Linked DNA regions of Homo sapiens. The protein of the gene in region 1 purifies or fractionates together with the protein of each later gene. This does not show direct contact. Each region holds a gene or a part of one and is shown in the gene's direction. Other genes may lie near its edges.

What was found.
Region 2: the proteins of RNF34 (region 1) and ZNF550 purify together in Homo sapiens (co-immunoprecipitation; one large-scale study listed by IntAct). This does not show direct contact.
Region 3: the proteins of RNF34 (region 1) and CASP9 purify together in Homo sapiens (affinity purification with western blotting, with the first as the bait; one study listed by BioGRID). This does not show direct contact.

What each region holds. Positions count from the first base shown.
Region 1 is NC_000012.12:121,417,118-121,420,617, forward strand, and holds part of RNF34 (E3 ubiquitin-protein ligase RNF34), read left to right. Parts: intron 1-386; coding exon 387-794; intron 795-3,124; coding exon 3,125-3,217; intron 3,218-3,459; coding exon 3,460-3,500. UniProt on the Homo sapiens protein: E3 ubiquitin-protein ligase that regulates several biological processes through the ubiquitin-mediated proteasomal degradation of various target proteins.
Region 2 is NC_000019.10:57,557,064-57,561,068, reverse strand, and holds the start of ZNF550 (zinc finger protein 550), read left to right. Parts: upstream 1-1,205; 5' UTR 1,206-1,386; coding exon 1,387-1,413; intron 1,414-4,005. UniProt on the Homo sapiens protein: May be involved in transcriptional regulation.
Region 3 is NC_000001.11:15,500,216-15,503,715, reverse strand, and holds part of CASP9 (caspase-9 isoform alpha precursor), read left to right. Parts: intron 1-3,500. UniProt on the Homo sapiens protein: Involved in the activation cascade of caspases responsible for apoptosis execution. Binding of caspase-9 to Apaf-1 leads to activation of the protease which then cleaves and activates effector caspases caspase-3 (CASP3) or caspase-7 (CASP7).

The sequences.
Region 1 (3,500 bases):
TTTTGTCTCCTGCTCTTTAAATGGAGGAAATTGTTCATGTAGGAAAAGACCAGGAAGTGTGATTCTGCTTTCTGCTCTGTGTGGTTCAAGCTCTGTTTTGTTAATTACATGTTTATACCAAGGGGTGGAAAGGTTTTAATTCATTAACACAAGAGTGTGTTTTTCTTAAAGTCCTATATTAGAACTTCTGTGAATCCAGACTGCCTTGGCAATGAATATTTTGATTTTCATGGCTTTTGAAACATGAAAATACCTCTGGAAATAGTCTGGTGCCACTGGGGACTTCACTAAGAACTAAAATTAAATTTTAGTAGAAGGCAGAAAGAAAACTCATGCTTTCATAATGGTTTATATCTTGCTGTCATCAAATGCTTTTCTTTCTTCAGCATGTTTGCTGTGACTGCAAGAAGGATTTTTGCTCCGTTTGTTCAGTCTTACAAGAAAATCTCCGTAGATGTTCTACTTGTCACTTATTACAAGAGACAGCATTTCAGCGCCCTCAGTTAATGCGACTGAAGGTGAAGGACCTGCGGCAGTATCTCATTCTGAGAAATATACCCATAGATACTTGTCGTGAGAAAGAAGACTTGGTGGATCTAGTACTGTGCCATCATGGACTAGGCTCTGAGGACGACATGGACACAAGCAGTCTGAATTCTTCAAGGTCCCAGACTTCTAGCTTTTTTACACGTTCGTTTTTTTCAAACTATACAGCCCCCTCTGCTACTATGTCTTCGTTTCAGGGAGAGCTTATGGATGGAGACCAAACATCCAGATCTGGAGTGCCGGCACAGGTACGAGGGGGTAACTAATTACACCCAGGGCCCGGCACGCTTATTCTTGGCCGTATATGGTGGGGCCTTTAGTGCTTGATGACTTCTGATAAACTTCAAGTCATGTGCTGGAGTGAAGCTTCCACACCCAGCTGAACTCTGCACTTAAAGGCTGTCCTGATGTATAGTGTCTGCTGAGGTGCTAGGTGGCTCCAAAGTCTGCTGTCTGAAGGGTCCCAAAATAGCTCATCAGTCTCTTGGCCTTAGTTAATTTCTCTGTCTTACACAGTTAGACACTAACTGTTGAAGAAATGGCTGTGAAAAAGTAGCACATACACATTTGTAGTGTTATGTGTTAGTGCACGTGTTTCAGTGACCACAGAAAACAATCAGTAGTGTAAGTTAGCCTAATGCCCATTTGTCTTGCTACAGTGAAATTGTTCTAATTTAGTTAATGAAAGAGCCATCTGAATTAGTGAAAAAATGTAGTTATTTACTAATTGTAATTAATAATATTGTCCCAGTGAGGTCCTTGGACATCCTGATTGAATAACATGTAAAGGCTTGTAATTAATATTTACTTGTACGTGAGTGATTCTAAACTGCTGAAAGAAATGTTTTGAACAAATTTTTTCACGCTTAATTTTCTTCTCTGAAGAAGGGGGTTATTAAAAGTAGAGGAAAGCTGGATGCGGTGGTGTGAGCCTGCAGTCTGATACTTGGCAGGCTGAGGCAAGAGGATTGCTTTAGTTCAGGAGTACGAGGCTGCAGGTGTACCATGATTGCAACTGTGAATAGCCACTGTACCCCCAGCCTGGGCAACATAGCAAGACTTTTTTTTTTGTTTGGAGGCAGAGTCTCACTCTGTTGCCCAGGCTAGAGTGAAGTGGCGAGATCTTAGTTCACTGCAACCTCTGCCCCGCTGGGTTCAAGCAATTCTCCTGCCTCAGCCTTCCGAGTAGCTAGGATTACACCCCAGTTAATTTTTGTATTTTTAGTAAAGATGGGGTTTCACCATGTTGGTCAGGCTGGTCTCGAATACCTGACCTCAGGTTATCTACCTGCCTTGGCCTAAGTGCTAAGATTACAGGCATGAGCCAACCGCGCCTGGCCAAGAGTGTCTTTTAATTAGTAAATGAATAAATGCAGAGGGAAATTTGGTCTAATTGCCTTCTAGATATAGTCCTGTGTCCTCTAATAATGTTTTGGTCAGTGATAGACCACATACACGGCAGTGGTTCTGTAAGATTATAATACCATATTTTTATTGTACCTTTTTTGTGTTTAGATATGTTTAGATACACAAATACTTATTACTGTGTTATAGCTGCCTACAGTATTCAGTACACTAACGTGATGTACGGCTTCGTAGCCGGCCATGCCCTATAGCCTAGGTGTGTAGCAGGCTGTGCCATCTAGGTTTGTGGAAGTACACTGTGATGTTCGCACAATGACAAAATCGCCTAAGGACACATTACTCAGAACGTCTCCTAGTCGTCAAGCAACACATACTGTAGTCGTAAATTAGATAAGTCCAAGCCAGGAGTTTTATTATTCTCCCAAATGAGAATTGGCATATTTATGCTGCAAACATAAGGCACAGCTGACTTACATACCCCTTTTGGGTATACACCACCATTTGGGTGATGTGGATTGTTGGATGCTACAGTATGGTGCCTGGCAATCAGGGTGGAATATTTGAAATTGGGAACCGACCTAGCTTATTGGAGAGCTATTGTCAAATATAGTCAAAAGAAAATATGTGAAGGAAGGTACATAACCCAAACTGAAGAGATTTGTGTTTTCTAAAGTGTTCTGATTGAGAAATTTTAAAAACTAGAATTAGCCTCAGCCATCAGTGAAGTCTAGAAAGCCTTCGTTGGAATTAGATTGTCTAAGTACGCTGTGGTAGGACTGAGATCTTTCAAATCAGATGCCCCTGATGCTTGGGCTGACCCATCAGAGCTTTAGCTTTTTTCTGTCTGCATCTTACAGGCTCCAGTTAAACTAGCCATTTGCAGGTACTTTGATAATGACACAGTGCTGTCCCATATCCTTAATGGCTTTGGCATTCCATTATGGGACCTTCCTGAGAGAGTTAATACTCTGGTTAGATTTTATAACTTTACACACACACAGGAATTTGTGTTTTGAGCTAACTTTATGGAAGGTAGGTTCTTCATGCAATTTTGTAGGGCCCAACTTTTTGGAAGGGTCAGCAGCATTCTGAATCCAAAGATGTGCATTATGCTGGCTTTCTGGTCATCATGGGGAGCATCAATGACAAGGTTTTCTCTAGTGATAAATACAGATTGATTCCTGACCTAATCAGATACGTTGTATAAGTGTAGGTACAAAGTGAAATCACTTCAGCAAACACAGAAGATGATGATGACGACGATGATGAGGATGATGATGATGAAGAAGAAAACGCAGAGGATCGGGTGAGGCCACCTATAAAATTTGGTTTCCCTGACATGTCAGCCTGACAGGAAGGGACAGTGCCCTGTGGACATTCGCTAGATTAGTACAGGATGTTTCTTCTGGTTTGAATGTAGGACAGTATACTGAAACACTTCTAGGACTGCTGAGATGGCTGGGAGAATATTCAGGGCCAGTGATGAGTTTAGAGTGGGGAGGGTCTGGACTTATGGGACCAGGGCTAATGGATGCTCTGTGGTTTCAGAACCCCGGGCTCTCCAAGGAGAGAGTGAGAGCTTCACTGTC
Region 2 (4,005 bases), on another chromosome or scaffold:
GTCCATGACTCTTCTGGGCAAAGCCAAATAAGAGAGAAAGGGGGCAGTAACCAGGTGGGTCCCTGAATTTCCCTCCTTTTCCAGAATACCTAATAATTATTCCACTCTCTAATTAAAGAAACACCCACAAAATAGGAATGCTGTGTGGTCACAGGAGAAGGGGGAAAACATCAAGCTGTTAAAATTAGCTACTCCAACAAGAAGACTGGGCTGATGAGACCTTAACAAACAGGATTGGGGCTAGGCTGTCCCATGACGCTAGATTTGACCCATTTCCTACCCCAGACCTAATTATACACTCATTGCCACATTAAATCACACACCCACCAGTGCCAGGCCAATCCAAGCACGCCCACATTTAGTATAAAAATGGTTGGCACCCCAATTCTAAGAAATTCCCACCTTTTCCTAGAAAAACCTCATGATTATCCCACCCCCTAATTAGAAGAGCCCATAAAATTAGAAACCCAAACTCCATTGTGCATGACCCGCTCTCCCTCGTACGTCCGCATTTCCCTCTTCTCTTGGGAAAAGTACACTCTTCTCAAAAATGTGTACTTTTTCTTCCCAATAAAAGCTTCTTGCCTTTGGCTTCATTTTGACTCATCCCTGCATTCTTTCTCACGATGGTGTCACGAAGCTGGACTCCGGAAGCGGGCGGGGACTCACGGCCCCTGGAGACCTTCCTGAGCCCTGGGCAACACCAGTCCACACAGAGGAGGCAGACGTCCCACAGACGGAACCCCACGAGCATGTCCCGGGAATGGCTCCACGCGGGAAGCGGGGGTCCAGATCCACGCCAGTCCCAGGGACAGTGCCTGGCGTCAGGGTGGAGGAGGACGCAGTAACCAGGCGTAAGATTTTACTGGTACATGGGAATGTCACTGGGTCACTCAGAGGAGGCAAGCGGGGAACCTCGTGGCAGGGCCCCCTTTATCAAACTCGTTTACCTGGGTGCCTGGGCGAGTGCTCACAGCCTGCTTGTAGGGACGTTGAGGCATCCGAATAATAGGAAGTTTTAAAAATTTACAATCCAGTGTGTACACTTGCTCCGCTAAGATCATCTGAGATATACAGAAACATGGTGTGCATAATAAAAAAGGAAAAAGAGCCAAGCCTGGCCTCTTACGGGACAAGACTACATTACCTAGAAGGCAGTGGGCCGGCGCAGGAAAAGGCGTGGCAGGCGACCGCGACACAGGGGCGGGACTTCCGGCCTCGCTGGCGTGGACGTTTGTGGTGGGGCGTGTTGGTCCGCGCTCTCAGAACTGTGCTGGGAAGGATGGTAGGGCGACTGGGGCTCACCTCCGCACCGTTGTAGGACCCGGGGTAGGGTTTTGAGCCCGTGGGAGCTGCCCCACGCGGCCTCGTCCTGCCAACGGTCGGATGGCGGAGACGAAGGACGCAGCGCAGGTGAGCAGACTGGCTCGGCTCCCCGCGGCCACCCGGCCTCAGTGTCCCGGGCCCGACGAGCGGAAGGACGGCGTTTCAGGGTCGTCCTCAGTGCAGTCCCTGCCGTTGCTTCTTAGAGGCCTAGAAGGGGGTCGCGCGGTCCCGGGTCCGGAATGCAGGCCCGCGGTGGCGTGGGGAGCGTCCCCGTTTCTGGGGTGCGCGGCGTTGTGGTATGAAATAGGGCTTTTAGGGTCCCGGAACCCCTCACAGGTGAGAGGAGCGACCGCAGTCCTCCTCGTGGCTCTTCCAACCATGTCCTTTCTCGGGCCTGCGACCTTGAACAAGTCCCGTTACTGTCCTCGTCCTTCATTTTTGCGCGCGCAAAGTAGAAATATTTACTCTTCCCCCCCCCGGGGTTGAGGAAGCTTGAACGGCTCCCTGGGTGATGTGTGTGTGTCCGTCTCAGTGCACAGCACGGTCCGGGGACGTCGCTCAGGATGTTGTTTCCGGAGCTGCTCCCTGGGCCTGTGCTAGGTTTGGAGACTCAACCCCAGCAGGAGTCTGACCCTCTGGCCTCCTTGGCCTCCTGTCTCTACAACACGAAGGGCAGCGGCTGAAAGAGGTGGGAGGAGCGTTTCTGCGGTTGCTGCTATGCCAGGGCAGAAAAGGTGGTAGGGCAGGCTGAGGAATTTGTCTTTCAGTTTAGGGCAAGGGACGCTGGGTTGCAACTAACAGTATATTTTCCTGTTTAAGACATTTAGTTACAGGTGAAAAACGAGTCCATTAAAATGTTCAGTGGCGATGGTATGCAGGATGTAGTGTCCCTTTGGAGATAACACATGAGGCCCAGGGTTACTCTCTAGCAGTCACTCTGATTACTTTCATGATAGCCCAGATTACTGTCAGCTCCTGTCGTAGTTGTTAATTTCTCATCCACCTCTCCCTCCTTTGCTTTATTTCTGACTCCCTCTGGTGTCCGCTGCTTAAAGAGGTCTCGTCTGTTGCACCGTTTAAAGCTGACCAGAGTCTCTTTGGTCTCCTTGCTCTGTTTTCTTGTCATCTGAATCTTTAAGGCCATCTGACATTGCCTTACTCATTTATTTAGTTGCCTGTTTAGGATCTTTTTCCAACCCTGGAATGTGAGTGCCTGTTGCTTCCCTCTCCCAAGACCCAGAACAGCCAGGCTTAAGTACATTTATTGTACTTAATAAATGGTTGATGATTGAATAGGCCTCTCTTATAGGGACTCTCATCACATTTCCAATAAATCCACCCCCTCCTACCAGCATGGTCTGCAAGGCTGTACTTGGTTTGCCCTTTTGACCGCATCTTCTTTCTCCTCTTCCATTGTCCCCTTTCTCACTGCATTCATCCAGGGAATCCTGAGCTTGCCAAGCTCTTTCCCATTTTCAGCCTTTGCCCTTGCACTTCCCTTTGTCTGAGACATTGTTCTCAGGTCTCTGCGGGGCTGCAGTTCCACACCCATCCTGGCAGTGCTGGCTGTAGCTAAAAGCACCCCTCACTCCCACCTGCCTGCTCTCTGGCAGCTTGGTGAGGTGTTTTAGCGGTGCTCAAATGCTGCTTTTGCTTTTTAAATGTGAGGCTGTGCCTGATTTCTAAAGCTCCCTGAGCCTTTGCTGACTGTGAAATGGAAGTGATAACGACATTTACCTCTGGGCCTGTCAGGGGATTAATAAAGTTCCCAAACACATCAGGCACTTACATGTGCTAGGCACTCCACTGATTGCCTAAGTGAACATTTTCTGTTTAGTTCTTAGAGCTGCCTGCTGAGATGGGAATAGTTATTGTGTTGATTCGGAAATCGAGCCTTAGAGAGATCATGTGACATCGTCATAGTCACATAGCTGGCAAGTGTCAGATTCAGGAGGCCTGATTTAAGTCAGGCCTTTATTTGCTTTACCACGGCTAAGGAAGCCTTAGCCTGGCAGGGACACAGTGAGGACCAGAGGACTTAGTGAAGGGTGCCTGCCCCTCTACACCTGTGGGTATTTCTTGCAAGGTGGAGATGAGAGACTGAGAAAAGAAATAAGACACAGAGACAAAGTATAGAGGAAGAAAAGTGGGCCCAGGGGACTGGCACTCAGCATATGGAGGACCCACACCAGCACCAGTCTCTGAGTTCTCTCAGTATTTATTGATCACTATCTCTACCATCTCCATGAGGGGGATGTGGCAGGACTATAGGGTAATGAGTGGGGAGAGGGTCAGCAGGAAAACATGTGAGCAAAGGACTCTGTGTCATAAATAAGTTTAAGGAAAGGTGCTGTGCCTCGATGTGCACGTAGGCCAGATTTATGTTTGACTTTACCCAAACATCTCAGTGCAGTAAAGAGCAGTATTGCCGCCAGCATGTCTTACCTCCAGCCATAAGGCGGCTTTCTCCTATCTCAGTAAATAGAATGTACGCTCGGGTTTTACACCAAGACATTCCATTCCCAGGGACAAGCAGGAGACAGATGCCTTCCTCTTATCTCAACTGCAAAGAGGCCTTCCTCTTTCATGAATCCTCGTCAGCACAGACCCTTTATGGGTGTCGGGCTGAGGGAAGGTAAGGTCTTTCCCTTCCCACGAGGCCACATCTCAGGCTGTCTC
Region 3 (3,500 bases), on another chromosome or scaffold:
TCCAGCTGTGACATGGGCACCTGTGGTCTATTTCTCCTGTGCACATCCAACTGCCCCATCCCTATTCCACGTTGGTGGAGTTGGGTGGAGGCTACCTAGGAGAGCAGTCTCTGGTCACATCATTCATCCAGTAAGTGTTTATTGAGCACCATCTGTATATACCAGGCTGTGCGTTAGGTGCTGGGGATAGGGGAAAAACAGAGTTTCAGTCTCCTGGAATTTATAATTTGACATGAACTGTATTAAGTCACTGTCATGACCCATGCCCATAACTTGACCACAAGTGATTGAGAACACTTGATTAACCCTGGATGGGCTACTGACCTATCTATCACACAGCCCTGGGCCAGTTCATCTCTAGACAGCTCAGCAAATGGGGAAAATAACAGAACCCACTCCCAAGCTCAGGTGATCCTCCCACCTCAGCCTCCTGAGTAGCTGGGGCTACAGGTGCACACTACCATGCCCAGCTAATTTTTCTATTTTTTTTTTGTAGAGACAGGGTTTTGCCATGTTGCCCAGGCTGGTCTTGAACTCCTGGGTTCAAGCAATCTGCTCACTTCGGCCTCCCAAAGTGCTGGGATTACAGGCGTGAGCCACTGTGCCCAGGCAACTTTAATAATATTTAATGCACTAATTGGTGTGTGTACAGTGATTGGTTCATTTTAATAACTGAAAACCCAGCCTGCCCCCCGCTCCCACCCCGGAGGACCCAGTGTCACATAAGAGTCCCCCACCCCGCTGTCGCCAGCAGAGTTCCCTCAGGACAACAGTAACAGGAAGTGAGGAAGGCTGCCACTCTCGGGGCTGTAGAAACCCTGCTCTGCCTCACCTCCTGTCTTATCCACAGTGTGTGGTCCAGCAATGCTCTTCCTTCGGAGCCTCCGGTCCCTCTTTCTCCTATGAATCAAATGAAAGACAGAAAGGGCAGGGGAATTAGGAATGCAGGCTGAGCAGGCATACCTACTTTCTGGACAGTTAGTCAGTCTTGTGCTCCTCCCATGCCCCATCCAGTCTCAGTCTCAACAGCAGGGAGGGCCTTTGTCACGTGAATATCTGCTGTCACTCTTAGGACTCAGTAGCAGGGCTTCCAAGGCCTTTGGTGACCTGGCCCCTGCCACTTCACCTTCCCCAGCCTGGCATGCTCCGAGTCCCCAGCACGGCCCAGCCTTCCCAGGATGTCCAGGCTCTTGCTTGCTCTTCTACCTGCTCCCCTGGCTAACTCTTTTTTTAAAATTCATTTTTACTTATTTTGTTTTAGAGATGGGGGTCTCACTATATTGCCCAGGCTAGTCTTGAACTGTTGGGTTCAAGTGATACTCCCACCTCCGCCTCCCAAAGTGCTGGGATAACAGGCATGAGCCACCGTGCCTGGCACCTGGCTGACTCTTAATCATCCATCCTTCTGGTTACAATTTATTGTCACTTCCCTAAACACCCCCTTTCTTGGCCAAAGTCAGGGTTAGCTGGCCTTTGTGCTCCTGCAGCCTCTGTCCCTCCCCTACCATAGCACTGTCTCATTGTATTGAGATGGGCTTATCCCCTGGTCAGCTCTGAGGGGAGGGCCAGGCCTACCCTGCAGCCAGGCCCCCAGCCTGGCACAGAGCCCACAGTCTGGTTGCGTCTCATGTGGATTCTAATTTGAATGTAAAGGAGAACCATACAAAAGCATCTGTGGTGGTTCACGCCTGTAATCCCAACAGTTTGGGAGGCCAAGGTGGGAGGATCTCTTGAGACGAGGAGTTTGAGACCAGTCTCTATCATAAAATTTAAAACATTAGCCAGGCCTGGTGGTGTGTGCCTATGGTCCCAGCTACTTGGGATGTTTAGGCAGGAAGATCGCTTGAGCCCTGGAGGTCGAGGCTACAGTGAGCCATGTTTACACTATTGCACTCCGGCCTGAGTGACAGAGCCAGTCTGTCACCTGTCTCTAAAAAAATAAAAAATAAAAAAAAAATATGAGCCAAATTTGGCATAATGTAGATTTCCATCATTAAAACAAAACTCACAGAAAACAGCAAGATTTCAAAGCCAGCATGCAGTGATTAAGATATCCCTTTGGAGTCGGGTCCTTGCTTTGCCTCCGCAGGCTGCGTGACCTGGTGCTTAACGCAGTTACCACATGGTGGCGCCACGTCAGCTGAGAGCAGAAATAGAAAGGTCCCCGTTCTTCACTAGTGCCTGGCGAGGGGTCTGTTTACATGCATCAGAACACCTGTCCTGGGTTTTGAGGACTCTTGTATTGCTATTTTATAACTCACTATAATACTTTAAAAATATTTAATTTAAAAATCATTTAATAATTAATTTAAATATAATAATAAATAATTTAAAAATCATTTTTAAATAATAATTTTAAAACCCTCCAACATGTCATCCACCCATTCATTAGGAGGTAACAGCACCAGGGCTGAAAAATGTGCATTAAAGTCGATAACTTTGGTGTGCAACGTCAGCGTGATAGGCAACCAAGTAGCCACCTCTCTGAGGCTGAGCCGTCAATTTTGGGGTGACCCCTCTTTGGGATTTGAGAGATCGGGCTGAGAAGACAGAAAGCAATGACAATATGCTGCAGTGGTCGTGGATTTTCTGTGCGGAGGGAACATCTCCTCCTACTGTATATTTATTCTTGTGGGGAATGAGTCCTGCCCTACGGGGAGTTTTGCATTAATGAGGCTCTCTAAGAACCGAGGCTCTCCAAGAACCAAGCCATGCATACAGTGCAGAACACCCTAGGCAAGGCCTTCACATCAGATTTGTGGGCTGAGGCTGACACGTGAACGGAGCTGCCTTAGCGCCCCGCCTGACCCCCTCTTTCCTTTCCCCCACACCCCCTGCTCTGATCTGCTGTCTCTTCTCAGCCTCTCTGCTCACCCTGTCTCTTCTGGCCATTCTTAACGGCATCCCCCACTTAGGCATCCCTCCGCCCCCACAGGCTGCCAGGCAGACCCAGCACCATCACATTCACGCCTCAGGCCTCCTTGCTGTGCTGTTTCACGTCATTCCCAGACACCTGGGGCAGATTCCGGAGTCTCTACCAAGAAAACAACCAGAAGCAATGAACCACAAAATCTGGAGAAAAACATGGCTGTCACAGATCAAAGAGGCCCCCCTTTGGAGGCTGGGGGCCTCCGTGAGAAGCAGTGGGATAGTTGAGAGGCAAAAAACATGGGGCAGAATTCCGCGCCCCTCATATCAGCTGGGAGAATGCCAATGACCAGTGGTTTCTGAGCTTTAGCTGTGTGGGGTAAGAGGTCAATAGATTTTGGTGTTACTATTATGGGGTTGCCAGAGCCACCTCTGTTCCTGCCAGATGGGCCCCCAGCTCCTCTGGGTGAACTGTGACTTCCCTCAGTCACATAGATCCAGCCATGCAAACCTGCCTGCGTTGCGGCCACAGCACTTGCTGTCTCTCTCACCAGGACCGTTCTCCCTGATGGCATCAGGGCCTGGATCACAGTCACATTCTCCAGGAGTGTTTTTGCAGGGGACCCTCTGGA